Homo sapiens: one gene and its partners. The protein of the gene in region 1 purifies or fractionates together with the protein of each later gene. This does not show direct contact. Each region holds a gene or a part of one and is shown in the gene's direction. Other genes may lie near its edges.

Region 1 (7,814 bases):
AGCAGTTCATAAAAAGTGCTCTAGCAGCCTCCAGGAGCTCCCAGAACACCCTTTGCTCCTCCAAACTTAGATGAGCCAGTGACTTTCTGCAGTTACTGATTTCAAGGTATCTTCATCTTTCTTTTTTGGTTCCTCCAGTTTTCTAACACTTTCACCACCATTTCACTACATTAGAGTCTCTGTCTGAAATACTTAAGGTGGTTTTTGTTTTCCAAAGAGAATCTTGCTTGACAAACTTCTGTGAAAATACTTCAAACTTTTAGGTTATAATTATATTAAACTGATACAGGAAAATGTGACATTGCAAAACATAGTTGCTGCCTTGATGACCTTAAGCAATTTCCTTTATGTGATGGAGTACATTGTTTAAGGGACTATTTTGTTAAAATAATAAGCTAGCTTAAAAAACCTCCACTGTTAAAATACAGCATTTATTCTTATCTTTTAATACTATGGTCAATGAAAGGTTATGTCATTTAATGAAACAAGCATGGACTTTGGAGACATCAGAGCTACTACTGTCAATATAAGACATCTAAAAATTAATAAATACATATTATATACATACAACCAGGTTAGGAAATAAATGCATCGTTGACTTTATAGTCAAACTATAAAGTTTAACTCAGTGACTCTTGGGGCTATTTTCTAGCCATACATTATCCTAATTCAGTTGTAATGTCTGTGGGCAACGCAGGAACATTAAGAACCATTAGAAGAGAAAGCATTGATAATCACAGTAGGTAAAAGAAAAACACAAGCTAAACTGGCTAGTGTACTATTATTTGCAAAGGAGTTCTACTAGAAAATAATATACTGTTTGATTACTGTAAGTAGAACATCAAATGATAGGACAGAAACCAACCTATGTATCAGCTCTGGAAACAAAGTTTTTAATTAAAATAAACAAAGTTTGCTTTCCAAAGCTTCCTCTTGGTTTGATTTCCATTCATCTGCTAGCTATAATGACTGGTACATTCCTGAATCTGGTTTGTTCTGTTTCCAGGCATATGAGAAAGTTGTGTCCACAGCTATCAGATGGTTGCCGGCATGTGAAAAGGGAAGAAATTTAACTTAGAGTTGGTAAGCAAAATAGCCCCAGACAAGCATTCTTATTTGGTCTCAGGACCCTTTGACAGTGCTAATTTATAGAAGACCCCAAAAAACTTTTATGAGCTAATCAATATTTACCAAATTAAAAGTTGAAATTGAGAATGGTTTACAATATATACTAATTCATTTAAAAATGACTCATTGTATTAACATACTTTATTAAAAAAAAAAACACTACATTTTCCAAAACAAAGCTAACTGAATGAAAGAAGAGTGCAGTTTTACTTTTTTTTTTTTTTTACATCGTTTTAATGACTGGTTTAATAGATATAGTCAAATTCTCATATCTGCTTCTATAATCAATCTATTGCTACATCACATACCATGTAGCTTCTGGAAAACTCCACTGTACATTTGAGAGTGCAAGTAAACAAAGCAACTAGAGTCTTAGTATTATTATAAGAACAATTTTCCCTCAGACACTCTGCAAGAGTCAAAGGACCCCTATGGGTCACTAGATAACACTTGGAACACCGCCGCCCTAAACTAGCCACGAGTGGTTTCAACGTACATTCTATTGTAACACATCATTTTCTCATGCATTTTCATGGATGTCTTCAGATATTAAGTAAACAAAAAAAAATGCTTTGATCCTTAAGTAAAACAAATAACATTGGACAATTTTTGAGTGTTGGAAGGATAAATGGAGAAGAGTAGGTGCCTGGAGATGTGTGGTATTCAGCAAAGTATTTTGTAAGTTGTGGGAAATAGACAATAAGCTATAAGCAAACAGGCAACTGGGTAATTCCTAGCAGTCAGCTGCAACTTCTTTACCTTTGATTCAATGAAGCAAAATGGAATCCCAGTGACAGTAACATTATTACAGAAATACATTGAAACTGTTAGGCTCTGATTTATTTAAGCAAATAATTTGAAGTTTTGGTACTTAAAATTACTGGAAACCAGTTACTCTTAATTACTGGAAACCAGCACTCTGACAATGTTGAGAGGTGCTGTCCTGTGTTATTCAAAGATATAAACTTCTATCTTTCTTTCAAGTGGCTGATGGAGGTAGGGTGTATAGTATTCCATGCATTCAATTCTGCTTTTCATATGCAACTACTGAAAAATGAGAAGTTCACTTTTATTCATATATATATACAAATGGGGATATATTCATATATATATATAAATGGAGATATATATATATTCATATATATATATAAATGGGGATATATATACACACTCACATACACAAATGTGGTTTTTGGGGTTTTTTTGAGACGGAGTCTTGCTCTGTTGCAGTGCAGGCTGGAGTGCAGTGACACGATCTCGGGCAACTTCCGCCTCCCAGGTTCAAGCGATTCTCCTGCCTCAGCCTCCCGAGTAGCTGGGATTACAGGCGCGTGCCACCATGCCCAGCTAATTTTTTTGTGTTTTTAGTAGAGACAGGGTTTCACTGTGTTAGCCACGGTGGTCTTGATCTACTGACCTCGTGATCCGCCCACTTCGGCCTCCTAAAGTCCTGGGATTACAGGCGTGAGCTACTGCCCGGCCATGTGTGTATTCATTCATTCATTCATTCATTTACTCATTCATGTAACACATATTTACAGAGAACCTCTTTAAGTGTGTCAGGCACTATTCCTGGCAGTTGAGATACAAAACAGAACACACATTCCTGGCCTCCTGTGTCTTGCGTCCTAATGTGATGAGAAATATGATGAAGATTAGTAAGTAAAATAAATTATCCATTACACTGTGATAAGTATTAAAAAGTAAAGGAGGAAATATGAAATATTGGGAATGGAAACATCATGACTTAAAATATGCTGACAAGTAGAGGGACTGACTGAAGAGTTGGACATCTGAGCACATATGGAGGGAGCATGATGGGGAAGAGTGTTCTAAGCAGAGGAAACCACAACTGCAAAGACTATGAGGTTGGCAGCTTGTGGAGAGCTTTCTGGGAATACAAAGCTGGGTAAACAGTCTGTGGGGTCAAAGAGGTAATGAGGGGAGGATTTTAAAGCCATCGTTAGGACTTTGGTTTTTACTTGTGTTGGGAAGCCACAGGAGACTTTGAGCAAAGGAGTGGTACGATCTCACTTCTTTTTAAGTAGATTTATTTAGGATTCTGTATTAAGGATAGAGTCAAAAGACTAGTTCCTGGTCTACCGTAACACTATAATCCAAACAAGAGATGATGCAGATTGTAGCGGAGGTGGTAAGTAGTTGGATATACTTTGAAGGAAGAGCCAACAGGTTATATGCCAAATGCATATAAGACATAAAAGAGAGGAGTTAAAGGTGGGTTTGAACAAGGAAAGATGCAACCATTTACTGAAATACAAAGACCTTGGGTATGAGTGAGAAGGGGTTGAACTAGCTGACATCTTACAGTCTGTGCCTGGATTCAAATCTCAGCTGTGTGTGTCTCTCTCTCTGTAAAATGGGAATAATAATAGTGCCTACCTCATAGTTTATTATGAGAATTAAGTGGGTATATATGAATAAAGCACTTAGAGCAACACCTGGCACATTGTTAGTTAATATTAGCATTACCTCTTCAAGCTGGAATCTTCGAGTACATATCAAATTTTAGCTATTCTCTGTTCATGGGCTGTGTAGGATAGAGGGACAAAACTGAGTGGCTAATAAGAAGATAAAGATAGAAAACTAAGCTTAAAGTTAAAGGATATACACTTCAATATTTCTACATGTATGGAACAGTATTGCATACACGCGCAAGCATCACTGAACTAGATGCACCCTTCAAGAGATTGGGTTACATATTGATATATATGAATGAGAACCCTGAAATAAACTGATTTCAGAGGAATAACAGAAAACATATACATTTCTATACCTATAAGGACACTGAAAACTTCCAATCCTGAATCAAACAGTTAATGAAATCCCAAAATGCAACACTAATGCAAATGAGAAGACGCTGTCATAGAATGTTGAAATACATACTCTTCTAAAGATAAAAGGTCTGCTCTTCCACCCTCTTCATTTTCCTACAAATTAGGAAAATTTAATCAGTTCTGAAAAAGGAAATGTACATGCTAAAATGGTGAATTACTGCTAGAGTTCTGATGTTTAAAACCACAGGCTTGCGATCAAAATAACCTCTTTAATTTTAGATTATCATGCAGATTAATTTCTTCAGTTTCTCAGGCACTATTCTGTTTTTTTTAAAAAAAGGGTGGGGTTTCAAAAGAAAACTAATACTCATTTTTTCCCCGATTAAATTGCTCAACCATTAAAAAGGAGAACAAATTGGAAAGTCCTACAGTACTCTCTCCCCTCCGTCCCCCCCCTCCCCATTTTTTTTCTTGAAAGGGAACAAGCAGTACTTTTGCTAAGGGATCTTTAAGCCGAAACTCAGCTAGGCGCCCCAGAGCTTCCTCAGGATAGCAAAGCTGGATTTTTGAGCAGCACCACCTGCTGGTCCTACACACGTTTTACTTCCTCCACCCCAAATCTCTTTCTGTTGGAACTGCACTCTTTCAGAGCCTCTGGGCCCTAATACAAAGCAAGCACACTCTAAAGAAGCCAGAAGAATGCAAGCAGCGAAGTCGCCGCTCCCCACAGGCAAGAGAGTACCGGCAGACAGCGGCGCGAGACAGGGGCAGAACGATGAGGCGCCGGAGTTAGCTCGCCGGTGCGGGTGCGGGTGCGCGGCGCGTCGCGGCCCCTCCTCCGCGACGCGCCGGGTGGTCACGTGACGGCCGCGCGCGTTCCCGGCAGCTGCGGGCTCCGAGGCCAGAGAGAAAAGACTGCGAGGTGGCCGCAGCTGTGGCCGGAGAGGTGGGAGTCGGAGCGAGGCCCTCTCGGGGGAGCAGGGTGAACGCCGGCCACTCTAGGATCCTCACTCGGGGAGAGGAGGCATAGCTCGCGGTGTCACCTCCAGCCGCAACGTACTCCGGGTCGGCCTTGCGCTCGGGGCCTGAGAGGGGCGGCGGCGGGGTCAGGGGCCGGTACGTAGATGGACGCCCTTGGGCTGGCGCGGCCCCGGCTGTCCGCGCAGAGGCGGGATGGGACAGTTCAGCCCTTTCCGCCACCCCCGCCTTGGCTGCTGGGGCAGGCAAGACGACCGTGACAGCCCCTGCGCTGCCCGAGGGCGCCGCAGCCCCTGCCCTGGGTGACGGCCGGAGCTGGTCTCGGTCCGGGTGCGAGGGGCGGAGCAGCGGCCATTACTGCGCAGCCTCTTCCGCCTGAGCCCGCTTCGCTGCCTCGGGTGGCAGGCGGGTCCCTCTCCTCCCCTCTGGGCCGTGGTTTTAGGCCTTTACCCGGGGACCTTCTGGCCTCGAGGTGTAGGGGCGGCGATGGTTTTTCGGCGGTAGCCTGCTCCATGTTTTCCCGTGTGGGGTCAGACAGTTTGGGCCTTGGGTCAGATCGAAGCCAGGGCGTACAGTCTGCATTTTTGCCTTTTCCCGGAGTGTCTCTGGCTGCTGCTTTCTCTTCTCTCGCTCTTCCTCCTTTTTTTTCTCCTGCTCAGTGTCTCGGTCTTGCCTAAAACGAAGAGAGCAATCCCTGCACCTTGTCCTAGTGAAGCCCAGCGCTGCATATTCTTAGTTGTTTTTGACGGCTGTTGAAGCATCGGAACAATTAAGAGATCTCAGAATATCCCTTGAGCCTCCAAACCCTCTGCATCTTAAAAGCTGAGGCTGTTGCTTTGTTCTGATTGTTGGGTGGGGAGTTCTCTTCCTACCCTCCATCCCGTCTGAAGGAGTGTGGGTCTTCCATTGTTGTCGCTATTTATTTTGCTAAGGCTTCTAAAGAATGTAAAATTGTTTTAAGAGTGGAGACGGAACCGTCCTCTCCACAGGTAAAACCTACAGGACTGTAAGTTTACACACACATCCTGGCAACTAGAATCTTTTCTCGTTAATCATATTGGTATATGTTTTAATTTATTTTCTCTAAGTGCCATTTTAGTGAGCACTTATTTCTCAAGTTTTGAACATTTTGTTTAATATTTTTGTAATATCGAAACAGTGTAGAACTGAGGAGAGAAGAAAGCCCAAAGATGATAGGGTACGCTTTGTTCTTTGTATGATTGGCATTTCAGGTAGTGGGCACATCCCCCCCACCTCGTGTGTGTACTTTTCAAATGGGATGTGAACGTATAATATTGGCATTCAATCCAGTATATAATTATAGAATTTGGAAGACTTAGGACATTTTAGTCAGTGAATCTATATTTAGACTTTTCAAAGACATGGCACGTAAGGACACGTGGAGAAAATGTCCCACACAGATAACAGGATTTGTGATTTTGGCTTTGCTGTTTTATGATTAGCAAATATTGTTTGTATAGAGTGTCTGGGTGCCCTAAAAACACATGAAAATAGGTCAACTAAATCTCGTTTTAAAGAGAAAACCGGAAGAGTGAACACCACTCTAAAAATAGATTTTGGATGTGTTTGTTTTGGTGCCTTGTATATCTTAAAGTGGAGGATGTTGTTCAGCCCAATCTTTCATTTAGAATTTATGTCTCAAATGAGCCAGTGTATCATGTGGGCAGACTGGAAATACATTTAAATATTTTTTTTCTTCGCTGGTTGTTCAGAACTTGGTAGAATTATAATTATCAGGAAAACTCTCTCCAAATAGCTGGTCTTTTAGACAAGAGAAGAAAAAAGAAATAACTTCTTTTAAAAGGAGATGTCAACTTACAAAGTGTTTTGTTTCAGTCTCCACCAACCTAACTTGTCAGAGGAAAGGAACAGACTTTTTTTTTTAAAGGATCCAAAACGATATTTTGAGTCAAAAGAAGAAAAGGATATTAAATCTTTTGTTTTCACAATATCGATCTTTTTAAAGAATATTATTTTATATGTTAACCATATACTACCAGGAAACATCTAACAGCACTGACAGTTGGGAATTCGAATGCGTATTTTTCTCCCGTGTTAGTAATAGAAGGTACTGAGCCTTTTCCATTCTCTTGGTTGCCTTGTGCCTGAGGAATCTGAATTTGTGAAACAACATCTTTGTGGATATAGAAACTAATTTATGTAACACTTGGCTACAACCACCTGTGCTTACTTACGGACTATCTTTAGTTTTCATGGCGTGTTACCTTTTGGGTTAATTCAAATCCAAAATGTTGTTAACGGACTGCTAATTAAAGCATTTAGAACTTAGAATTACAGAATTATAGAGTAGGATGAGATAACAAAAGACTGGGGGTTATGACTTGACCAAGGTCACACAGATAATTTGCCAAAGAGCTTTCTTATTTATGAAATGGTTGCTGGCTAAGAAACATCTGTGTGTGATATGATTAAAAGACAATATTCGTTCACTTTTACATCTCATGTTTTGAAATAAAATGCAAAGCTCACTTTTTTGTTGTTTTGAGAAAAATTAAAGGGTTTAATGGGCTAGTATAAAGATTGTGAAGGCAGTAAGTAGACTGCCACATAGTAACGTCTTAAAGGGAAATAATTCTTTAAAGTATCAGACCCCATTTAGTTGAAATGAGTTTTGTCTGAAGTTTCCAAGTATGACCTATGCTTTTTCTTAGCTAATTTTTAGCAGGAGATGATGAGGGCTAAAAATTGAGACATTAGGGCATTTAGTTACATCTCTCAATTTGTGACTGGTTTATAAAAAATACTAAGATGTGTCTGCTAACTCACACCTGATTTATCTACTCCTTTTATGTATATATAATTTTTTTTGAGTTGTGTACCAAAAGTTGGAACATTTCAAGTATTTTTTCTTTCTGTCACTGAGTGATTTCA
Region 2 (7,674 bases), on another chromosome or scaffold:
AACCAACTTACTTTTTTTCTATACTTCTATACTGTGGTATATTTTCCCTGGCTTTCTGGGTTCTAAATTTATTACATGTTATTTCATGACAAAGAGGTATACTGGCATCAAAAGTCAAAACACAGTTTTTCATTTCTTGCAAGAAAGAAAACCCAAGTTAAGTGTTTTTCATCCCAGCACAAAAATCTTCCACCCATGGGCACGGACCTAATTCTAACCTAAGCTCAAAGTTCCAAGTTCATTTACTCAAGAGGTCTGAATAAATGTTTACTTTGGTCACAGCTTTTATCCAATTTCCGTATCTGACTCACTAGGTGCTTCTAACTGGTGCCCTGATGTTACCTAACAGAGCAAGGATACAACAAACAGCAAACATAATTTGTTTCTTAATCTGTGCTTAATCCATGCTTGTTTTGGTAATGTCTGCACATGCTAAGTCCCACTGACAGTGTTAGTTGGTTAGCATTAATCTTATGGAGTTGCTGTTGCCAAAGGACATATCCTTTCTGTGGAGGAATAAAACAATTAACAAAAACAGCATGATTGTATAACCTGAACAATGAATGAAAAATGAGTTGAGGCTAAATTTTATTCTGGGAGTTAATCACGACTCACAGAAAACACTGGACCAGCTTCCTAAACTTTCTGTGCCTTGGTTTGCCCATCTGTGAAATGCACTCTCTGTACTTCAAAGTTATAACAATCATATGCCCTAGATTTTAAAATTGTTCCACAGGCACCTCATTCAAACATTCAACAATATTTATTGAGGGCATACTATTGTAATGCCTAACCTTGTTTTTACTAACCCTGTTTTTAGATTCTCTCTTTCCTTTAATCACCTAGCCTTGTTTCCACCTGAATTGACTGTCCCTTAGCTAAGAGAGCCAGACAGACTTCATCTTGGCTCTTTCACTGGCAGCCCCTTCCTCAAAGACATAACTTGTGCAAGCTGACTCCCAGAACATCCAAGAATTCAATTAACTGATAAAATACTGTGGCGAGCAATATCCGCAGTTCCCAGGAATTCGTCCAATTGATAACGCCCAAAGCCCCACGTCTATCAGTTTGTAAGAGTCTTAAAGCCCCTGCACCTAGAACTGTTTACTTTCTGGTAATCATTTATCCTTTTAACTTTCTGCCTACTTTACTTCTGGAAAATTGTTTTAACTAGACCCCCCCTCCCCTTTCTAAACCAAAGTATAAAAGAAAATCTAGCCCCTTCTTCAGGGCCAAGAGAACTTTGAGCGTTAGCCATCTCTCAGCCGCTGGCTAAATAAACAGACTCTTAATTCGTCTCAAAGTGTGGCGTTCTCTCTAACTCGCTCAAGTACAACACTATGTGCCCAGCACTGTTTGTACAAATCCAACACATCCCACCAGTTGCTCGGGCCACATCCCTGAACCCAACCTTTGCTTCTTCATTTCTCCCAGATGCTCAATCAGTGAATCCTATAGGCTCTATCTTTTCAATAGATCTAGTAGCAGACCACTACTCACCACTCCACTATCACCATGCTGGCCCCAAAACTATCAACTCTTGCCCAGACTACTGCAATAGTTTCCAAACTGCCTCCTTCCTTCCATCCTGATCATCTACAGATCTCTTCATACAGTATTCAGAGCAAAACTTTTCTATGTGTCACCTCACTGGCAGACCTGGAGTCTCTCAGCTACCTTTCTTAGCTGTATTTTAGGTACCAGACTTAGTATACCAACAGTCTACCTGGCTTATAGCTAGGACTCTATCATCTGGTATTCTGTTACAACAAATGTACTTTAAGTTAAAAATAATAAACAGGCTTATATTTAAGTGGCAAGTGCTTGATATGGCTGCTTTAGCAGATAAGTCTACTGGTAGAATCTAGAGGAGAGGAAATAAGTCATACATGGAGACCAAGATGCAAAAACCACTCATGAGCAGCCACATAGGACAGAGGTCCCTCTGGAGAAGCCACCAAAGGATATAAATCTCTCTTCAGGTTTGTTTTGAGAAAACACCCAAGCAGGAAAGCTGCTGTACAAAATTACTATTGCCCCATTATGCGATTGTGTTTTACTTTTGTCTTAGCATTAATCCTACCTTGTGGGGAAAAGAAAGAGAGCTCAGACTGCTACTGTGTCTGTGTAGAAAGAAGTAGAAATAAGAGACTCCATTTTGGTCTGTTCTAAGAAAAATTCTTCTGCCTTGAGATGCTGTTAATCTGTAACCCTACCCCCAACCCTGTGCTCCCTGAAACATGGGCTGTGTCCACTCAAGGTTAAATGGATTCAGGGCTGTGCAGGATGTGCTTTGTTAAACAAATGCTTGAAGGCAGCATGCTTGTTAAGAGTCCACTCCCTAATCTCAAGTACCCAGAGACACAATACACTGCGGAAGGCCGCAGGGACCTCTGCCTAGGAAAGCCAGTTATTGTCCAAGGTTTCTCCCCATGTGATAGCCTGAAATATGGCCTTGTGGGAAGGGAAAGACCTGACCGTCCCCCAGCCTGACACCCATAAAGGGTCTGTGCTGAGGAGGATTAGTAAAAGAGAAAGGAAGGCCTCTTTGCAGTTGAGATAAGAGGAAGGCATCTGTCTCCTGCTCATCCCTGGGCAATGGAATGTCTCGGTGTAAAACCCGATTGTATATTCCATTGACTGAGATAGGAGAAAACCACCTTAGGCCTGGAGGTGGGACATGTGGGCAGCAATACTGCTCTTTAAGGCATTGAGATGTTTATGTGTATGCACATCAAAAGCACAGGACTTTTTTCTTTACCTTGTTTATGATGCAGAGACATTTGTTCACATGTTTTCATGCTGACCGTCTCTCCACTATTACCCTATTGTCCTGCCACATCCCACTCTCTGAGAAATGCCCGATAATGATCAATAAATACTAAGGGAACTGAGGCTGGTGCCAGCGCAGGTCCTCTGTATGCTGAGCGCCGGTTCCCTGGGCCCACTTTTCTTTCTCTATACTTTGTCTCTGTGTCTCTTTTTTTTCTTAAGTCTCTCATTCCACCCGACGAGAAATACCCACAAGTGTGGAGGGGCAGGCCACCCCTTCACTACCTGATTTTTATTTATTGCTTGTCTCCTCCTTTTAAAATGTAAGATCCAGGAGATAAGTGGCCTCTATCTTCAGTACCATAGAGTGCTTGGCACATAGTATGTAATTCAGTCAGTGTCAGGCCTCTGAGCCCAAGCTAAGCCATCATATCCCCTGTGACCTGCACGTACACATCCAGATGGCTGGTTCCTGCCTTAACTGATGACATTCCACCACAAAAGAAGTTTAAATGGCCCGTCTTTGCCTTAAGTAATGACATTACCTTGTGAAAGTCCTTTTCCTGGTTCATCCTGGCTCAAAAAGCTCCCCTACCGAGCACCTTGTGACCTCTCACTCCTGCCCGCCACAGAACAAACCCCCTTTGACTGTAATTTTCCTTTACCTACCCAAATCTTATAAAACGACCCCACCCCTATCTCCCTTCGCTGACTCTTTTCGGACTCAGCCCACCTGCACCCAGGTGAAATAAACAGCTTTATTGCTCACACAAAGCCTGTTTGGTGGTCTCTTCACACGGACGCGCATGAAAGTCAGTATTTATGAATGACTCAAGACACAAAAATAGCTTCATAAAACAGTGCTTTGCTTGAGTTTTTATGAATAAACCAATCTGAAGTCATCCCTTTTCTAGCTCAGAACAAATTTCTCCCTTTTATTTTAGAGGAAGATGAGAATGGAGGGTACAAATTTAACATGAGTTTACTGAAGAAGGAAGCACCAAGATTAACCTAAATGAGAATACTATTCTAATGACATTAGCCAGAGAATAATATCGTTCCTGTTCCAGTACTGCCAATTACCATTACAAGTCCCAATATCTTCATTTACAATGTGGGGACAATTATAACACCTAATTATTGGTTATTGTGAAGGTTAAATAAGAAAATATACTTAAAGCCCTTAGGACACCACCCAGAACTTCATCAATAAATGCAGCTATTTTGTTATTATCATATTTATATTAGTGGTATACTACATCATAAATCCACTCAAAGCTGATGCTGAGTCACGGTGACCCCTAACTGAACACATTGCCTCAATCTGCTCCCCATAATGCACTTGAGATACCCACTGCCACAATGACGTCTTTGGTGATTTTAATTTACTACTATTCAGAGGTTCCCAATTTTGGCCTACAGGTCACAGGCAGTAAGAAAGGGATTTCAGGGACTAAATCAATTTATCACTAGGTAAACCGAACAAGAACAGTTTGATCTTATCGTGAATCACTGGAGGGCACGGAACAAGTCTTACTTCTAGAACCCCCAGGGCCCAGCGGAGTGTCTGACACATGATAGTCGATGTTGATTAAATAATAAATGAATGATGAACACATGCCACCTCCTTGACGGGCAGTTCAGGCAATCAGACGTCCTGTGCGTGATCAGACGCCTAGCGCTTCAGAAGCACGACTGGTGAGAACTGGGCAGCCCTTCCACGCTCCGCACTGCAAGAACTGCCTGTCCGGAAGGGTGACTGCACCAGCTCCGCTCCGGATATCTTGGCAGGACGCGCCCTCTGGCGGCGCCTCGCTCGTAGGTGGGCCCCAGCGCGCAGTCGCGCGCCCCCGCGCGTTGGGAAGTTGGGAGGGAGGTGCGCGCTTGGCCGCGCGGGGCGGGGCCTCTACCGGCCCGATGGAGCGCGCGGGCGCTACTAGCCGCGGGGGCCAAGCCCCTGGCTTCTTACTGCGGCTTCATACTGAGGGCCGAGCCGAGGCGGCGCGGGTGCAGGAGCAGGACTTACGGCAGTGGGGGCTGACAGGTGAGCGGGCTCCGGGCGGACTTCGGCCAGGCGGGCCAACCTATTGGGACTGCCTCTTGCGGGCCGGGGGCGCAGCGGGTGGGCCGCCCGGTGGGCAGTTTACCCGCTCGCGCCAGGGCCTTCCTTCGCTCCTGCCGTGGGCGGAGAGAAACTGCGCCCGGGCTTGGTGGCCACGGCCCCCGCCTGCGCGGCGCGCGGGGCCGGCGGACGCCAGATGAATGAGGTCGCGGGCCCGGTAGCCAGGCCTGGCCCCTGGCCTGTGGAGGGGAAACGTGGTGAGATCAGCGCCACCTGCAGGCCTCCGCTGAAGAGTTGGACGGCCTGGTGCACCAAGGATGTAGGTTTCCAGTTGCTGTTCCGGTGGGTTTGGGTCCCGGCCTGGGGAGTTTATTGGTTGCTTCTGTAAAACGATCAACTCATCTCCCAGCTTCAGCTTCTCCGTTTACTGTGCGCGCGCAGTTATTGGAGAATTCGCCACGGATTAATTCTCCGGATCGAGTTACGTGCGGTAGTGAGCGGACAAACTCAAGCAAAGCACTGTTTATGAAGCTATTTTTGTGTCTTGAGTCATTCATAAATACTGACTGAACCACGTACTATATGCCAACTTAGCTTGTCCGCTCACCACCGCACGTAACTCGATTTATTGACACTAGCCCTTACGGAGAGTCTGCAAAGCGCGAACCTTGCATGCCCCCCAGCCCTGCCGCTGCATGGCTGACCGTACTTCCTGCAGCTCCGAGACCCCGCTCTCCTCCTGGGTCTGCGCTGACTCGCCGCTGAACCGCCCCAGCCTCGTTTTCCTTACTTATAAGTTGGGAACGTAGTGTGTGCTTTGACTGTATTGACAGAATCATGCATCAGTAATAATACAGTCGTTTATTCATTACTTATTGAATGCTACTGGGAGCGTATTCTTAGGCATTGGCTACAAAGATGAGCAAAACAAATAGGGACCCTTCCTACCTAGAGTTTTAGACTAGTGAGAGTGCATTTAAAAGTATAAACTAATTTATTTAAGTGCTCAGTACCACGAAAGAGTAAGGTTTGTCATTCTAGGAATGAAACAAAAGGTGCAATTCTGTGTTCAGCTTAGAAGACTGAAAGATGAAGTTGAATGGAGAGGACGCTGACATGAAAGAGAAAGACCTCTCTCCTTGATTCCCTGAGTCTGTAAGAATGTGTGGCTGTAAGGAGTATGTATCCAGTTTTAAGTATGAGCTTGTAGACTGGTCTTTTTATGTTTGACTTTATCTTAACGAAAGTTTATGTTTGTGGGTTTGCCTATTTCCTTGCAAGTGTTGGGAATGGTTCTTTAAGAACTTGTGTGAGAGAGGGCTCAGAAAAGTGTGCCAGTTGATACTTAGCTGTGGATAATATGCCAGGAGAAACGTACATATGGGCAAGTGTTTTAGTGAAAATGAGGAGACAAGAGGTTGCAAGTTTGAGTGGATGGAATGGAGTGAGTAAATTCAGAATTAAGTAGGCAAATGTGGCAACTTGGATAAATTGGTAGTGGAGAAGGAAAATAGAAAAGCAGAGTCAAAGGAATGGCTACTGAATATTATAACTTGTAATTTCTATTTCTGTTTACCAGAATAAACTAGTGTTATGAGAAACTATTCTTCATGAGTTGGTTAAAAAAATTCTTACTACTTTTTTTTCGTTTGGTTACAGAAGTAGTACGTATTTTCAGTAAAACATTCAGGGAAATAGCCTATGCATAAAGAAAATAAATATTAATCTCCATAATCTCCTTACTGTTAACATGTTCTCTATCCTGTATAATTTCTTTTACTTTCTGGTGGAGGGGGAAGGTGAAAAATGGAGTTTCATGTACATTTTTTTGGGAAATCATAACTTTTTTTCCTTATCATTCAGTCTTCTTCAACATCATTCTTAATGGTTACAGTTTTTCAGTATATGGATGTACCATAGTTTAGACAGTCCCTCTTCTTGGTATTTAGGTTCTTTTTTTTGCTATTGTAAGTAACATAAATATCCTTGTAACCAAATATTTATTATAGGTATGGACGTTTAATTCCTGAAAGGTACCATTTCTAGAATAAAGAGTATGCAAAATTTTTGCTTATTTCTCTATACTCTCAGCAACACTGGTATTTTCTAATTTGAGAAGTTAATATGCTATCGTATTGTTTAATTTAATGTTTATTTGGTTACCAATATTGATGGACATTTGGATATTCATCTTTGGATCATGAAGTTACCTTAGGACCTTTTTGTTTCTGGAATATGCAGACCTATTACTTCTTGCTGTTTTGCTTGCTTTTTCACTACTTGTCATCTCCCTGACAGAAGGGCAAAAGAATCTACATCTGGAGGTTAAAAAGCTAAAGACTACCTTTCCCAGACCCCACTGTAGTTTGGTTGTAAACGTGACTTGGCTTTAGCCAGGCACGTGACTGGGAGATTTGGAAGGGGAAAGTGAGGGGAAGGACACAGAGGGGTTTGGATTTTCCGCTTCCCACTTAGCTACTACCTCATGGGTCTGTGGGAGGGTACAGAGCATTCATTTTGTTATCATGGATTGTGGCTGCGTTGATAGGTCCCTGGGGCTGACAGTACCGTGGCCTCCTGGTTGGTTCCTGGCTTCCAGGTCGTGGAGGTAGATACTTCCTTGGTGTGTCCATACTGTGGTGCTTGATTTAGCAGTTGTACCCAGAAGATCAGCCTAGATGTTACTCCTCCAGGCCTTTCGACAATTTTGTGGTGATCTAATTCCCTGTATTACATTCCTTTCTGCCTAACCTACCAAGGGTAATTTCTGGTTTTTGCTGTTGACTCCTAAGTGTTAAGTATTGTTATCTTTGTGGATATAATTACATATTATTTTTGAA
Region 3 (7,246 bases), on another chromosome or scaffold:
CAGGGTCTTACCCTATTGCCCACACTGGAGTGAAGCAGGGGAATTGCTTGAAACCCGGAGGCAGAGGTTGCAGTGAGCTGAGATCACACCACTGCACTCCATCTGTAAAAATAAAGTAATTCTAGATAACGTGATGTCTTATCAGAAAATACTATAGCATGCTTTTTTTAAAGAACTTTTTTTTTCCTTTTGAGAAAGGGTCTTACTCTATCACCCAGGCTGGAGTACAGTGGCATGATCACAGCTCACAGCAGCCTTGACCTCTCAGGCTCAAGTGATAAATTATACAGCTAATTTTTGCACTTTTTGTAGAGTCGGGTTTCGCCATGTTGACCAGGCTGGTCTTGAACTCCTGGGCTCAAGCAATCCTCCTGCCTGAAGTTCTGACTGCTGAGATTACAGGCATGAGCCCCCACACCTACCCTAAAGGACATTTTAAAATCATAACTAGAATATCATTATTTTAAACCTAACTAGAATACCATTATAATATCTAATAAATAATTCCCTAAAATCATCCAATTTCCAGTCCATATCCACATATCCCCATTTATTGCTGGCTTGTTCAAACCAGCATCCAAACATTGCATTTGGCTGTTAGGCTTCAAATGTCTCTTTTACTCTAAAACAGTCCTAACAATTTTTTTTTTACATAATAGTATGAAGAGAGTAGGCCAGTTGTCCTGTCGAATATTAATTTGTATTTTTCATACTATGTGAGCCTGAATATCTTTTCCATGCACTTATTTATCAAATGCAAACTGTTTATTAATATCTTTCATCCACTTATCTATAGAGGTTTTGGTTTTAATTATGAAAATAAATTTGTTGGTTTCTTCCAGGCTTTTTTTGTTTTTGTTTTTCAGACAGAGTCTCGCTCTCGTCACCTAGGCTGGAGTGCAGTGGTGCGATCTTGGCTCACTGCAACCTCCGCCTCCCCAGTTCAAGCTTCTCCTGCCTCAGCCTCCTGAGTAGCTAGGATTACAGGCACCCACCACCATGCCCAGCTAATTTTGTGCTAGAGAGGGGGTTTCACCATGTTGGCCAGGCTGGTCTCGAACTCCTCACCTCAGGTGATCCGCCTGCCTTGGCCTCCCAAAGAGGTGGGATTACAGGCATGAGCCACCGCACCCAGCCGGTTTCTTCCAGTTATTGGTGACATGCTTCAGTACTATTTTAGTTACACTTGTTCTGTATTTGACTATAAAGAAGTTATATCTTCACAATATATTTTCAGTAATTCTCACTCTGACCACCATAATAACTAAAAAAGAAAAAGAATCAATAAAAACTTTAAAAATACATTTTTAAAAATGTGTGTGGGATGGTAACTACTGTCATGAAACAGAATACATTAGCCTAGTAGATAACAACATAATTTGGAGTCACCCAGATCTGGCCCTGCCTTTTAGGAACTGTATATTATGAGCTGAATTGTGTCACCTCAAAATGTATGTATTTGAAGAACTCTCATTATCTCAGAATCTGCCTGTATTTGGAGATAGGACATGTAAAGGGGTAATTAAGATAAAATAAGGTCATACGGGTTGGGAATAATCCAATATCACTGATGTCCTTATAAGAAAAGGAGATTAAGGGCCAGGCACCGTGGCTCACGCCTATAATCCCAGCATTTTGGGAGGCTGAGGCGGGTGGATCACTTGAGGTCAGGAGTTTGAGACCAGCCTGGCCAACATGGTGAAACCCTGTCTCTAATAAAAATACAAAAATTAGCCAGGTGTGGTAGCCCACGCCTATAGTCCCAGCTACTCAGGGGACTGAGGCAGGAGAATCGCTCAAGAACCTGGGAGGTGGAGGTTGCAGTGAGCCGAGATCTTGCCACTGCACTCCAGCCTGGGCAACAGAGCAAGACTCTGTCTCAAAAAATAAATAAATAAATAAAATAAAGGAGATTAGGACATAGATGCACAGAGAGGAAAGACAGCATCCATCTACAAGCCAAGGAGAGAGGGAGGCAGGCCTTAGAAGAAATCAGCCATGTCAAGACCTTTACCTTGGGCCTCTAGCCGCCAGAATTACGACAATGTATGTAGTTATAGCAGCCCTAGCAATACACTGTGTGATCTTGAATAAATTAAATTTTTCTAAAGCTCAGTTTCCTCAACTATAAATGGAGATAATAACATATGCCTCATGAGGTTGTTGTGAGAATTAAATAATGTATGTAAAGCTCATAGCATAGTAAGAACTAAATAAATTCTGGCTATTATTCTTATGAAGATTAAATGAGGTTATGCATGTAAAGCATTAGCTCAGCCTCTAGTACACAAGAAAGTTCTACTAAGTATTAGCTATTTTTAATAAATTTTCATTTCATAAAGGCTTATATTTTTCCTATCTCCAAAGTATTTCCTTTTAGACCTAGTCTAATTTATTTGTGTCATAATTAAGTCAGATGTAACAGGCTTTGTACCGCTGAAACAGGTTAAGCAATCCTATCCAACAACATTTATTGAGCACTTACATTTTGTTAGATTTATTTCCAACTACTTGATATGCTTTGGTGTTATTGTAAATGCTACCTTATCCAAAAATTTTATTTATAGTTGTTTGAAGCTCTTTTATAAGCATGGAATTTATTTTCACACGCTATTTTCTATCAGTCTTGCTAGGCTTTGTATTAAGGTAAAATTTTTATCCTGTAGTTTCTTCTAGCTTTTAAAATATTCATAATCAAATTACATGCAAATAATGAGATTTTGGGTTTTTTCTTTCTAAACTTTACATCTTTTGATGAACAAAAATTAAAATGTATCAATTTTTTTTTCTTTGTTTTTTTCAGACGGAGTCTCACTCTGTCACCCAGGCTGGAGTTCAGTGGCGGGATCTCGGCTCACTGCAACCTCCGCCTCCCGGGTTCAAGCGACTCTCGTGCCTCAGCCTCCCAAGTAGCTGGGATTACAGGCGCCCGCGACCACGCCTGGCTAATTTTTCACTTTTTTTTTTTTTTTTTTTGTAATAGAGACGAGGTTTCGCTATTTTGCTCAGGTTGCTCTATAACAGATACTATGCTATCCTAACAATATGTTTCTAAATGATATTAGTGCCAAAACCAGGATTACCCAGTGATTTTGTTAATACAGGCTTATTGAATCGGAGGGTCTGGGGTGGGGAATTTGCTTAAGTATGCAGTCCCCATACTCGGTGATTCTCATGAAGCCAAACATTTGGGCGCCCCTCACCTGATGTCACCAAGAACCAGAAGACCAATTAGAATTTTCGTGGGCTTCCTGCCCCATGGTTCCCTCTGTTCCCAAAGGGTTTCTGCAGTTTCACGGAGCTTTTCACATTCCACTCGGTTTTTTTTTTTTTGAGACTCGCTCTGTCGCCCAGGCTGGAATGCAGTGGCGCGATCTCGGCTCACTGCAAGCTCCGCCTCCCGGGTTCACGCCATTCTGCTTCAGCCTCCCAAGTAGCTGGGATTATAGGCGCCCGCCACCACGCCCGGCTAATGGCTAATTTTTTGTATTTTTTTTTTTTAGTAGAGATGGGGGGGGGTTTCACCGTGTTAGCCTGGATGGTCTCGACCTCCTGACCTTGTGATCCGCCCGCCTCGGCCTCCCAAAGTGCTGGGATTATAGGCGTGAACCACCGCGCCCGGCCCGGTTTCGTTTTGTTTTTTTTTTTTTTTTTTTTTTCCAAAAATGGGCGGAGGAGAGTAGTCTGAATTGGGTTATGAGGTCCCCTGCGGGGTACCTCACCTCAGCCATTGAACTCACTTCGCTGGCCGTGAGTCTGTTCCAAGCTCCGGCAAAGGAGGCATCCGCCGGGCCCCTCCCCGAAGGGCGGGGTCCACGGCATCTCCTGCCCAGTCTGACCTCGCGCGGAGCCCCGTTCTCTGGGAACTCACCTCCCCGAAGCTCAGGGAGAGCCCTGTTAGGGCCGCCTCTGGCCCTAGTCTCAGACCTTCCCAAGGGACATGGGAGTGGAGTGACAGGACGCACTCAGCTCGTGGCCCCACTGATGAGCTTCCCTCCGCCCTATGGGAAAAAGTGGTCTCATACAGAACTTATAAGATTCCCAAATCCAAAGACATTTCACGTTTATGGTGATTTCCCAGAACACATAGCGACATGCAAATATTGCAGGGCGCCACTCCCCTGTCCCTCACAGCCATCTTCCTGCCAGGGCGCACGCGCGCTGGGTGTTCCCGCCTAGTGACACTGGGCCCGCGATTCCTTGGAGCGGGTTGATGACGTCAGCGTTCGAATTCCATGGCGGCGCGGCGGCGACGGAGCACCGGCGGCGGCAGGGCGAGAGGTTCGGAGCTCAATATCGCGGGACGGCATGCGGGGGGCGGGCAGTCAGAAAGGAACGATGCCACCTACTGTGACCCCCTTCCCCTTCCAGCTCCCTATAACCTGCACTTGGCTACCAAACCAGTTGGGGTGCTAAATTTTGTAAATTTCGGTTTTCAGAGCTTTGGGGATTACATAATTGTGCATAAAGCCTTGCGGAGCTGTAACAACTAATGTGCCAGTACTGTTGTTAATACCTAATGTCATCCAATTTACAAAAAGTAATTGTAAGGCACACCATTATTTTATACACAACAAAGGATAAGCACTGAAAATGGTGAACTGTGATTCACTGCTTATGTCATCCATTGTAAGATGCATCCCAGTTCCAGAGAGTAAAATGCGAGTCTTAGACCTATTGAGATACGGTATTATGTGTATAATGTTCTTAAATGCATAGGTGCACCCTATAAATTAGGTTCTATTGTACTTCTCTAGAAGTACAGTATTGTACAATATTCTAATATTGGAGTAAGTGAAGTAGGAAGAGATCAAATACTTCTCCAAGTTTCCACAGAGAAAAGCAGCAGAGCTAGGCTCTAAATTAGGCACAGACCCTTGAGCACTTAACTAACCTTTATCCCATACGGCCTCATGTATGAGGTGGGTATTTGGGGGACATTGGGACACAAGTAAAACAGATAAGCAGGCCTCAATCTATGAGCTTACAAGACTCCTGGGACTCCCTTTTATTTTGTTTTATTTCATTTGGCTAGAATAGCAATTTAGGAAGAATTACACAGACTGTTACACAAAAGTAGTGTGGGACAGTTGTTATTGCCTCTGTAAACTTAGAAAATTATCTTAAACCGGCGGGGTGAGGTGGCTCACGCCTGTAATCCCTTGGGAGGCCGAGGAGGGCAGATCACTTGAGGTCACGAGTTCGAGACCAGCCTGGCCAACATGGTGAAACCCTGTCTCTACTAAAAATACAAAAATTAACTGGGCATGGTGGTGCACGCCTGTAATCCCAGCTACTCAGGAGGCTGAGGCACGAGAATCACTTGAACCCAGGAGGCGGAGGTTGCAGTGAGCCAAGATCGCACCACTGCAGTCCAGCCTGGGCGAGAGAGTGAGACTCCACCTCAAAACAAAAAAAGAGAGAAAATTATCTTAAACCATTTCTTTAAAAGATTTTTTTCAATCTTTAAAATCTACACGTATTCGGGTGTGTACTCATTCTTTGCTAATTTCCAAATTCTGTAGCATTAAATGAAAGCAAAAGAGTTAATAATGGCAACACGGCTCCAGAAGACTCTTCCCCTGCCAAGAAAACTCGTAGATGCCAGAGACAGGAGTCGAAAAAGATGCCTGTGGCTGGAGGAAAAGCTAATAAGGACAGGACAGAAGACAAGCAAGATGGTATGCCAGGAAGGTCATGGGCCAGCAAAAGGGTCTCTGGTAGGAGTGGATCTGGGGATGATATCTTGTTATTTCAACTCCTATTTCGTCCTTCTTTCAGGGAATAATTAATTTCTCTATCCTTTGGGCATACCACAGCACTAATCTACTGCCTTGAATCTTCATTTTCATGTATTTGAGATGGATTGGGGTCTAAGGAAAGACCAGGATTGGTTGGGCGGGCAAAGTTAATCCTGACAAGTTTCTGTTTTACCACAACAGCTGTTTTTGATTCCCATAAAGTAGTACCTATCTGTCTTTCCTCAGAATCTGTGAAGGCCTTGCTGTTAAAGGGCAAAGCTCCTGTGGACCCAGAGTGTACAGCCAAGGTGGGGAAGGTAAGAGACTCTGGAACCGATCTTCAGTCCATGGATATCTCAGAGAGCATCCTTTGTTATAAGGACTCCTGTCTGGGATGCTGTTAGTACTCATTTTAGGAATCCTCTCCAAAATATGATGAGTGAGTAGTTTTCTCTAATGGCAAGAGATAGGAGTGGTAGGGCTTGGGGTTAATAATCAGGGTGTTTTTTAACATGGTGTGTTAGACCATTCTTGCATTGCTGTAAAGAAATACCTGAGACTAGGTATTTTATAAGAAAAGAGGTTCCTAGAGGCTGTACAGGAAGCATAGCAGTATCTGCTCCTCAGGAGACCTTAGGAAACTTTTACTCATGGCAGAAGGTGAAGCGGGAATAGGCACGTCACATGGCAAAAGCAGGGGAGAGAGAGAGAGACAGAGAGAAAGGGAGAGAGAGAGATTGGAGAAGGTGTCACAGAGAGAGAAAGAGAGAATGGGGAGGTGTCACACGCTTTTAAACTACCAAATCTTGTGTGAATTCACTCACTATCAAGAGGACAGCAGCAAGACAGTGGTGCTAAACCATTCATGAGAAATCCACTTCCATGATTGAATCACTTCCCACCAGGCCCCACCTCCAGTACTGAGGATTACAATTCAGCATGAGATTTGGAAGGAGACAAATATACAAACTATATCACATGCGTACCTTTTGTGGTTGCCATCAGCCTTCTACACCTCATTCTCTTTTTAAACCAGAAAATGGTATCATTGTTAAGGGAAAACTGTTTTCTTGTTCTAATGAGAAACTGTACCCTGGAATGGCATGAGTTACTGATGAATGGGGAAAAAAGAAGGCTACCTCTGGAATAAGTTTTCTTTAACTCAGTTAGAATCTTTTTTTTTTTTTTTTTTTTTTTTGAGATAGAGTCTCACTCGGTCACCCAGGCTGGAGTGCAGTGGTGTGATCTCAGCTCACTGCATCCTCCACTTCCTAGGTTCAAGTAATTCTCTTGCCTCAGCCTCCCAAGTAGCTGTGATTACAGGTGCCCACCACCACGCCCAGCCTGGGCTAATTTTTATATTTTTAGTAGAGACGGGGCTTCACCATGTTGGCCAAGCTGGTCTCGAATGCCTGACCTCAAGTGATCTGCCCACCTTAGCCTCCCGAAATGCTGGGATTGCAGGCATGAGCCACCATGCGCAGCCTAACTCAGAATCTTTTGTA
Region 4 (7,021 bases), on another chromosome or scaffold:
CTCAAACTCCTGGATTCAATTAATCTGCCTACCTCAACCTGCTAAAGTGCTGGGATCACAGGCGTGAGCCACCATGCGCGGTCTGAGTTTATTTTTTTATTTATTTTTGTGTGTGTGTGTGAGACAGTGTCTTGCTCTGTCGCCCAGGCTGGAGTACAGTGGTGTGATCACAGCTCACTATAGCCTCGACCTCCTGAGCTAAAGCAACCCTCCTGTCTTCTCCTGCAAGTAGCTGGAACCATAGGCATATGCCACCATGTCCAGCTAATTTTTTAATTTTTTGTAGAGATGGGGTCTTTCTTTGTTGCCAGGGTGGTCTCAAACTTGTGAGCTTAAGCAATTCTCCTGCTTCGGCCTCCCAAAGTGCTGAGATTACAGGTGTGAGCCACCTTGCCCAGCCTTCTTTGAGTTTATATATTTATTTGTTTAAGCTCTATTTCTCAAGAAGGGTTCCTTCTGTCTCCAGATGGTTTCCACGGTGATGTGTACCTAACAGTGAAGCTGCTGCTGCCAGGAGTCATTAAGACTGTTTACAACTTGAACGATAAGCAGATTGTGAAGCTTTTCAGTCGCATTTTTAACTGCAACCCAGATGATATGGCACGGGACCTAGAGCAGGTCAGAGGAACGGGAGGGAGGGTAGGCTACATTCCAGGTGGGGTTTTGCCAAGCCAGGCACCTGCAGCCTCTTTTTTTTTTTCTGGTTGGGACACATACTGTTTTAGGAAACTGAAACCCATTTGAGCAAGCTTCCGTTATAGGGGGAGCTGAATGTGAGGCTATAGCTCTTAATTTCTTAAGTTTCTGAGGGTGGAAACCATACAACTGCTGAACCACAAAGGCCTGGTTCTCAAAAGGCAGAATTTGAGACTTGCCCCCTCTGTCTCTCCTGGGGCTTTTATTCTGGACTCTTTTTTTCTTGCTTGTTTTCTCCTATAACTTGGCTTTACCAAGCTTTGGTTTGTCCGTGACTCTATCCCTGGTACCATGGCAAGTTTCCATCCCCTTCTAGGAATTGTGGATGGGCTAGTGTCTCTAAGAAGTGGGCTAGATATGTTGAGTTGGGATAGGAGCTATGATTGAAATTTCTTGATTCATCTTCAGTCCTGGGTCTTGGGGGATACACTTGGCCACCCTAGGGTTGCAGCAGTGGCATTTTGGTTTTTGGAGACAGGGTGACGTGTCAGAGACAATCAGAGTCTTCTTTGAGCAGAGCAAGTCTTTCCCCCCAGCTGCCAAGAGCCTCCTTACCATCCAGGAAGTGGATGAGTTCCTTCTGCGGCTGTCCAAGCTCACCAAGGAGGATGAGCAGCAACAGGCCCTACAGGACATTGCCTCCAGGTGGGGGAGCTGCCTCCGTCAAACCATGCCCATAGAGAGATGAACTCTCTTGGGAAGGGAAGGTTCCCTTGGGGTTCCAGAGCTCTTCAAGACCAAGTTAAATGTGCTTCATCCCCCTAGGTGTACAGCCAATGACCTTAAATGCATCATCAGGTTGATCAAACATGATCTGAAGATGAACTCAGGTGCAAAACATGTGTAAGTAGCAGCTCCGCTGACAGCCTGAGCTGTCATTTGTTAGCTTTGTTTGTTCCCAACTGGTGTCAGGACTTTTGAGTCCCAGTCAGGATTTGAATCCCCCTTCCACCTTCTTACTTTCTGTGAGACCCTGATCTGTCACTTGACCTGTCTCTGCCTCCATTTTTTCCCATATAAAATGGAGATAACAGTACCTTTCTCACAGAGTTCTTACAGTTGAAGTGTGGCATACGTTCAGTGAGTATAGTATGAGTCTCTTGCCTACTCCAGCCCCCTCCTCGCTAAGGCGGCATCCACATAGGCACAGTATCTCAAAAGAGCTGAATTTTCCAAGAGCTTTCTCTCCTCTTGTGAAAGTCTTTAGACAATAGAACACAACCCCTTCCCTACAGATGAGGATTTCTTCTGTGAGGACAGATTGCTGTCCAAAGCCATGGAGTCAAACAAAGGCAGTGGTTTTGTTTCCTTGTTCCTGTACCCCTTGGCAGGTTAGACGCCCTTGACCCCAATGCCTATGAAGCCTTCAAAGCCTCGCGCAACCTGCAGGATGTGGTGGAGCGGGTCCTTCACAACGCGCAGGAGGTGGAGAAGGAGCCGGGCCAGAGACGAGCTCTGAGCGTCCAGGCCTCGCTGATGACACCTGTGCAGCCCATGTTGGTGAGGAGTGCTCCCCTGCCTCTGCTTTCCAGCCTCTCCAAGCTCCACATCCTTTGGGCTGAGATCAGATAGGGTATGAGTGTTGAGAGCACTTGCAAATTGACTGGAGAAGTTTAGGGAAGGAAGAGGGAGGTGCAAGGGGGTATTTCTCTGTAGGAGGCGAAGGCAAAGGAGAAGACAGAGGATCTAGTGGAAAGACCTGAGTTGTAGGCCCAGCTACGCCACCAAGATGCTGTAGAATCTTAGATGAGTGACTTGCCTCTCTTGTCCTTCAGTCTCCTGTGTGGATGACGTCTGAGACTGCCTGAGGCATCCCCCTAGAATGATTTATCTGTTATCTTACCTGAAGACGGATGTATTAAGTAACCCCTGAGATTCTGTGACCTACTGCAAAGTAGATCTGAGAGTTGGTAGCAGAGCCAGGCTTCCTGTGACAGGGTGACTTGGGAAGAGGGAGGACACATAAGGAATGAAGGCTGACTCTGACAGACATCATCTTAGGCCTCTGCTCATTTCGTAAGAAATGGGGTTTCCTTTCCAGTGTTGGTTTTCCTGTGTGACAGGGCCCACCACATATGGTGCCATGCCTACTGTGAGATTCTTTGGATTTTTGAGTGATGTACAGTGCTTTTTTTGAAACTGTCTTGTTTGTCATACTAAAACCTTGGTTTAGGGTTTTATGTTTGAGATAGGCAAGTGTTCTCTCCCTGCTAGGAATGTGGGATAGCCAGCATCAAAACAGTGAGATCTCCATCCCAGAGATGGGACTGCGGCCACCTGCAGTAGTGGCCTTTCTGACTTTTATAAAAATGCCTCCTGGAGTCTGTTCTATAGTTTGTCATTTAAAGACTGGCATGGGTTATATAGCTTAGTGGTTAACCACACAGGTTTTATAGGTGGGCCTAGATTCAAATCTCATTCTTGCCATTTTTTAGTGTAACTTAAGCAAGCACCTATTCTCTCTAACCTTCAGTTTTATCATCCAAAAATGAAAACAATATTTGTCACATAGGATGTCACATCGGGGATGAAATGAGATTATGTATGTGAAGCGCTCCCAAAATGGTAGCTATTGTTGTTTGAGTTAGGCTAGCACAGGTAGGCATGTAAGTAGGTGCTCCAATATCTGGAAACCCTGTTTGTTGTAGGGACCCACGATCACTCACCCTGCCAGCCTCACTGTCACCTGCACTCTTTAACCTTAGCTTCACATACCTCTTTTACTGGGAGAACTGATGTGTTTTATAATAAGCCAGAGGTCTTGCAAGGCCTGAATTATTGAGAAAAGAATTAAATCTTGTTTCACTGGGCTTTTACTTGTTGTACAATGAATAGCATTCATATTCCTCAAAAGGCAAGCTCCTATGTCAGCTCAGGTGATTATTTCATAGGCAGAATACAACATTGCCCAGCCCTTTCCGTTCCCATCACCTCTTCACCAGCCTTCCCTGAGCGTTAATTGTGGGCAGTCAGTCCCAAGACCCAGGTAACTACCCTCACTAACCCAGTTGCAAGGTCTCTGGCTGTCGCTGCTTAGCAGCCCCTCATTGAAAGTCTCCAGGCTTTGCTTTCCCCACCCCAAGGCGGAGGCCTGCAAGTCCGTTGAGTATGCAATGAAGAAATGTCCCAATGGCATGTTCTCTGAGATCAAGTACGATGGAGAGCGAGTCCAGGTGCATAAGAATGGAGACCACTTCAGCTACTTCAGCCGCAGTCTCAAGCCCGTCCTTCCTCACAAGGTATGAGTGCCTTCCTTTCTGCCAGGACCGTCTTTCCCCTTTCTGCCTCTAACAACCTCAGGGCCAGAGTCCCATAGCCATTCCAGCTGTGGTACACAATAAGGGTTTGTTTTTTATTTGTTGAATGAATTAATTCATTTATTCATTTTTGGAGTCTTCCCATAATGAAGGGCTGCTCAGCAGGGAGAGCCAAAGAGCCCTGACTTGGGTTCGTGAGGATAGAGCTCCCTGGAACAGTGATACTTCTTTTGCCCACAGTGATATTGGGACAGTGAGCTCAGTTGGTGAGTTGCTGTGTGTCTTTTGTGTTTCCATGTCCCAGATGCTTCCTGTGAGCTAGACTAAGGCTTATATACCAGGGGCTATTGGGCTGTCATTCATTAATTTGTTCAACAATTATTTATCAGATGCTTACCCATTGTTACAGCTGGTGGGGATATAGCAGTGGAAAAAATGGACAAAAGTTCTGGCCACCATGAAGTTTACATTCTGATGTAAACACAGTCTTATGGGGACATCTAGGAGCCTAGATTCCTGTTCTAATCAGGGGTGGCATTTGGAACCTTATTCCTTAGCCCTTCTCCACTCCCAAGGATACTGTGAGCCTTTGGGAGTGTCTTCAGGGAAAAGCAGCTGGAACATCTGGCTCCGGTAGCTTGTGAGCAGATGGAATTCCTATCTTTGCTATCCTTTTCTTTCCTAACTCAGACTCAGTTTTTCAGAGCCTCAGGGGGTTCAGGGGAACATGTTGTGTGGCCTGTGCTTACCTCAGCCTTGCCTTCCTGCTGGAGCATTGGGAACAAAGCAGTCAGGCCATTTGTTTCATATGTTCAAGAGGAAGGCTAAGCAGTGGCCTCATTGTGGAGCTTTAATGCAGGTTCACGTGTTCTGTGAAGCACTGCAAATCACTCAGGAGCTGTTTCTGGTGAGGTTGGTGTTAAATAGACACCATCTGTGACCCAGGAAGAAGTCTGAGCACACTTTTCCAGATTTAGTCCTTTCCTTAATTTTCCCTTACCCAGTATTCACTCATCCTTTGCCTCTCCTGTGATTTGGGTTCTTAAAGGGCTAGGTTAGGGATTGAAGGGGAATGGCATGGATGTGCTGGCCTTTCCTGTTCCTGCTCTAAGCATCCTGGGTAGTGATGGCTGTGGGTTCAGGGCTCCCACTCAGAGAAGACACTGCTCAAGTTTCCTTGCTGCACCTGAGGGAGTTCATTTCTACCTTTCTGGTTTCAAGTAGTCTGTTCTCCCCTAATCCAGTCCCCAGCCTGATAGTCACACATCTTCTGCAGTAGGCACTAATCTCTGCCCACCTACCCTCCTCCTCCTCCCCCGACAGGTTTAATCTGTTTCTTCCATTTTCCTCAAAAATTGTACCTTCTCTACAGCCCATAGAAAGTGACCCAGCATGGGTTGACCTCTTCCTGGGCCCGGACAGAAGTACTGAAACAGATGGCCTCTCCCTCTTGTCCAGGTGGCTCGCAAGGCCTAGCTATATGTTTTGCACATTAGCTGGGCCTTCCACATGTTGTTCTATATCCTGTCTGGGCCCGGGCTTTGCCCTCCATGGCATGGTTTGAGGTCCCTGCTGCCATGTCATCCCTCACCAAAGCTCCCCTTCTGCTTTCAGGTGGCCCACTTTAAGGACTACATTCCCCAGGCTTTTCCTGGGGGCCACAGCATGATCTTGGATTCTGAAGTGCTTCTGATTGACAACAAGACAGGCAAACCACTGCCCTTTGGGACTCTGGGAGTACACAAGGTACTAGCTCAGGGCCATATGTGCAAGAATGAATGAGTGTGAGTGAGTATGTACATGTGGGTGCACGCTGCGGTCTGAAAAGGGAGGAAATATCCCTTAGTGTGGCCCTTATTCTTCGCTTCTGACCTGTTTCTGGTTTGGATTTTTGTCTTTTGTTTTTCTCCTAAAAAGGGGCTGGTATTGGGAACCAGTTTATAACTGGGTTGGTTTCCATTTAGCACTATCTGCTCAGTGCCCTTATGGCCCAGGGGCTTCAGAGCAGAAATAGTACTTTTTCATCCGGTGCCTCAGGGGGCCTCCAGAAGTGGACTGGTACTCCTTATTTTTTCACACTGACTTTTGTCCTATGTGTACCTACTACCTCATTTTCCCTTACAGAAAGCAGCCTTCCAGGATGCTAATGTCTGCCTGTTTGTTTTTGATTGTATCTACTTTAATGATGTCAGCTTGATGGACAGGTGAGTTGGCTAGCATCTTTAAACCCAGAAACTGCCAGGAATCTGTTTTCATTTCCTGGGTGAGGAAGATGGGGGCTTCAGGTTGGAAAGGAGGGTACAGGGAACCAGCTGGCACATACGTTTGTGCTCAGGAGCTTGCCAAAGGCAATGGCAAGAGGGAGCTGAGAGGAAGCACAATTGCTACATGATCAGTTCCCCATTCAGTGTAAGAAAGAGCCCATGTGTTGACTCCATCTCTTCTCTGAGAGCTTAAGTCACAGAAGAAACCCAAACCCCCAAAGAAGTTTCTCTACTAAAGCAAAATGGACTATTGCAGAGAAATAGACTGTGAGCATATGGGGTTTCAGTTTATTTCTCCAATGGCACCCCTAGGGGCTCCAGTGGCACCCCTGGGGGCATAAGGCAGATGGTTTTCAGCTCAGAGGTTTTGATTTCAGAAGAGACTGACAACAGGAAGCTCCGGATTATAGGGGAGGCCATGGGTGGGACCATCTTGGAGAGAATTAGCAGTCTTGACTTAGCTGCATCCATATGCTTGTGCCTGAGAAACCAGTATCAGCCCTTTCCTCACTTAGAAATGTATCTCTACCCCTGTTCCTCCTGCAACAGCCACATCCTTGATTGGGGAAGGAGAAGGAAGTAGAGAGGGAAGGAATTGGTGGGGGTAGGATTTGGGGTTTGGGTCCCAAGGCCTGTCTCAGCCTGCCTACCCCGGGGTTGGCCTTGGGATCGGGGCAAAGCAGGGTGCAGGGGATAAAAAATGAGAGTTGGAGTCGTATTTCAAGTGGGACCAGAATTTATACAATCTGGGCTACAGGCCAGTTCTCCCTTGGCTCGCTTGATGAAGTAGAACTAGGAACTACA

Evidence for each region.
Region 2: the proteins of RNF146 (region 1) and CHD1L purify together in Homo sapiens (co-immunoprecipitation; 5 studies listed by BioGRID and IntAct, with this or other methods). This does not show direct contact.
Region 3: the proteins of RNF146 (region 1) and PARP2 purify together in Homo sapiens (affinity purification with mass spectrometry; 6 studies listed by BioGRID and IntAct, with this or other methods). This does not show direct contact.
Region 4: the proteins of RNF146 (region 1) and LIG3 purify together in Homo sapiens (co-immunoprecipitation; 5 studies listed by BioGRID and IntAct, with this or other methods). This does not show direct contact.

What each region holds. Positions count from the first base shown.
Region 1 is NC_000006.12:127,262,057-127,269,870, forward strand, and holds the start of RNF146 (E3 ubiquitin-protein ligase RNF146), read left to right. Parts: upstream 1-4,807; 5' UTR 4,808-4,869; exon of another isoform or gene 4,870-5,039; intron 5,040-7,814. UniProt on the Homo sapiens protein: E3 ubiquitin-protein ligase that specifically binds poly-ADP-ribosylated (PARsylated) proteins and mediates their ubiquitination and subsequent degradation. May regulate many important biological processes, such as cell survival and DNA damage response.
Region 2 is NC_000001.11:147,238,015-147,245,688, forward strand, and holds the start of CHD1L (chromodomain-helicase-DNA-binding protein 1-like), read left to right. Parts: upstream 1-4,669; 5' UTR 4,670-4,689; coding exon 4,690-4,816; intron 4,817-5,125; exon of another isoform or gene 5,126-5,176; intron 5,177-7,674. UniProt on the Homo sapiens protein: ATP-dependent chromatin remodeler that mediates chromatin-remodeling following DNA damage.
Region 3 is NC_000014.9:20,339,407-20,346,652, forward strand, and holds the start of PARP2 (poly [ADP-ribose] polymerase 2), read left to right. Parts: upstream 1-4,228; 5' UTR 4,229-4,235; coding exon 4,236-4,281; intron 4,282-5,525; coding exon 5,526-5,681; coding exon of another isoform or gene 5,682-5,720; intron 5,721-5,987; coding exon 5,988-6,058; intron 6,059-7,246. UniProt on the Homo sapiens protein: Poly-ADP-ribosyltransferase that mediates poly-ADP-ribosylation of proteins and plays a key role in DNA repair.
Region 4 is NC_000017.11:34,990,497-34,997,517, forward strand, and holds part of LIG3 (DNA ligase 3 isoform alpha precursor), read left to right. Parts: intron 1-466; coding exon 467-618; intron 619-1,174; coding exon 1,175-1,341; intron 1,342-1,461; coding exon 1,462-1,539; intron 1,540-2,027; coding exon 2,028-2,196; intron 2,197-3,779; coding exon 3,780-3,935; intron 3,936-5,567; coding exon 5,568-5,699; intron 5,700-6,077; coding exon 6,078-6,157; intron 6,158-7,021. UniProt on the Homo sapiens protein: Isoform 3 functions as a heterodimer with DNA-repair protein XRCC1 in the nucleus and can correct defective DNA strand-break repair and sister chromatid exchange following treatment with ionizing radiation and alkylating agents.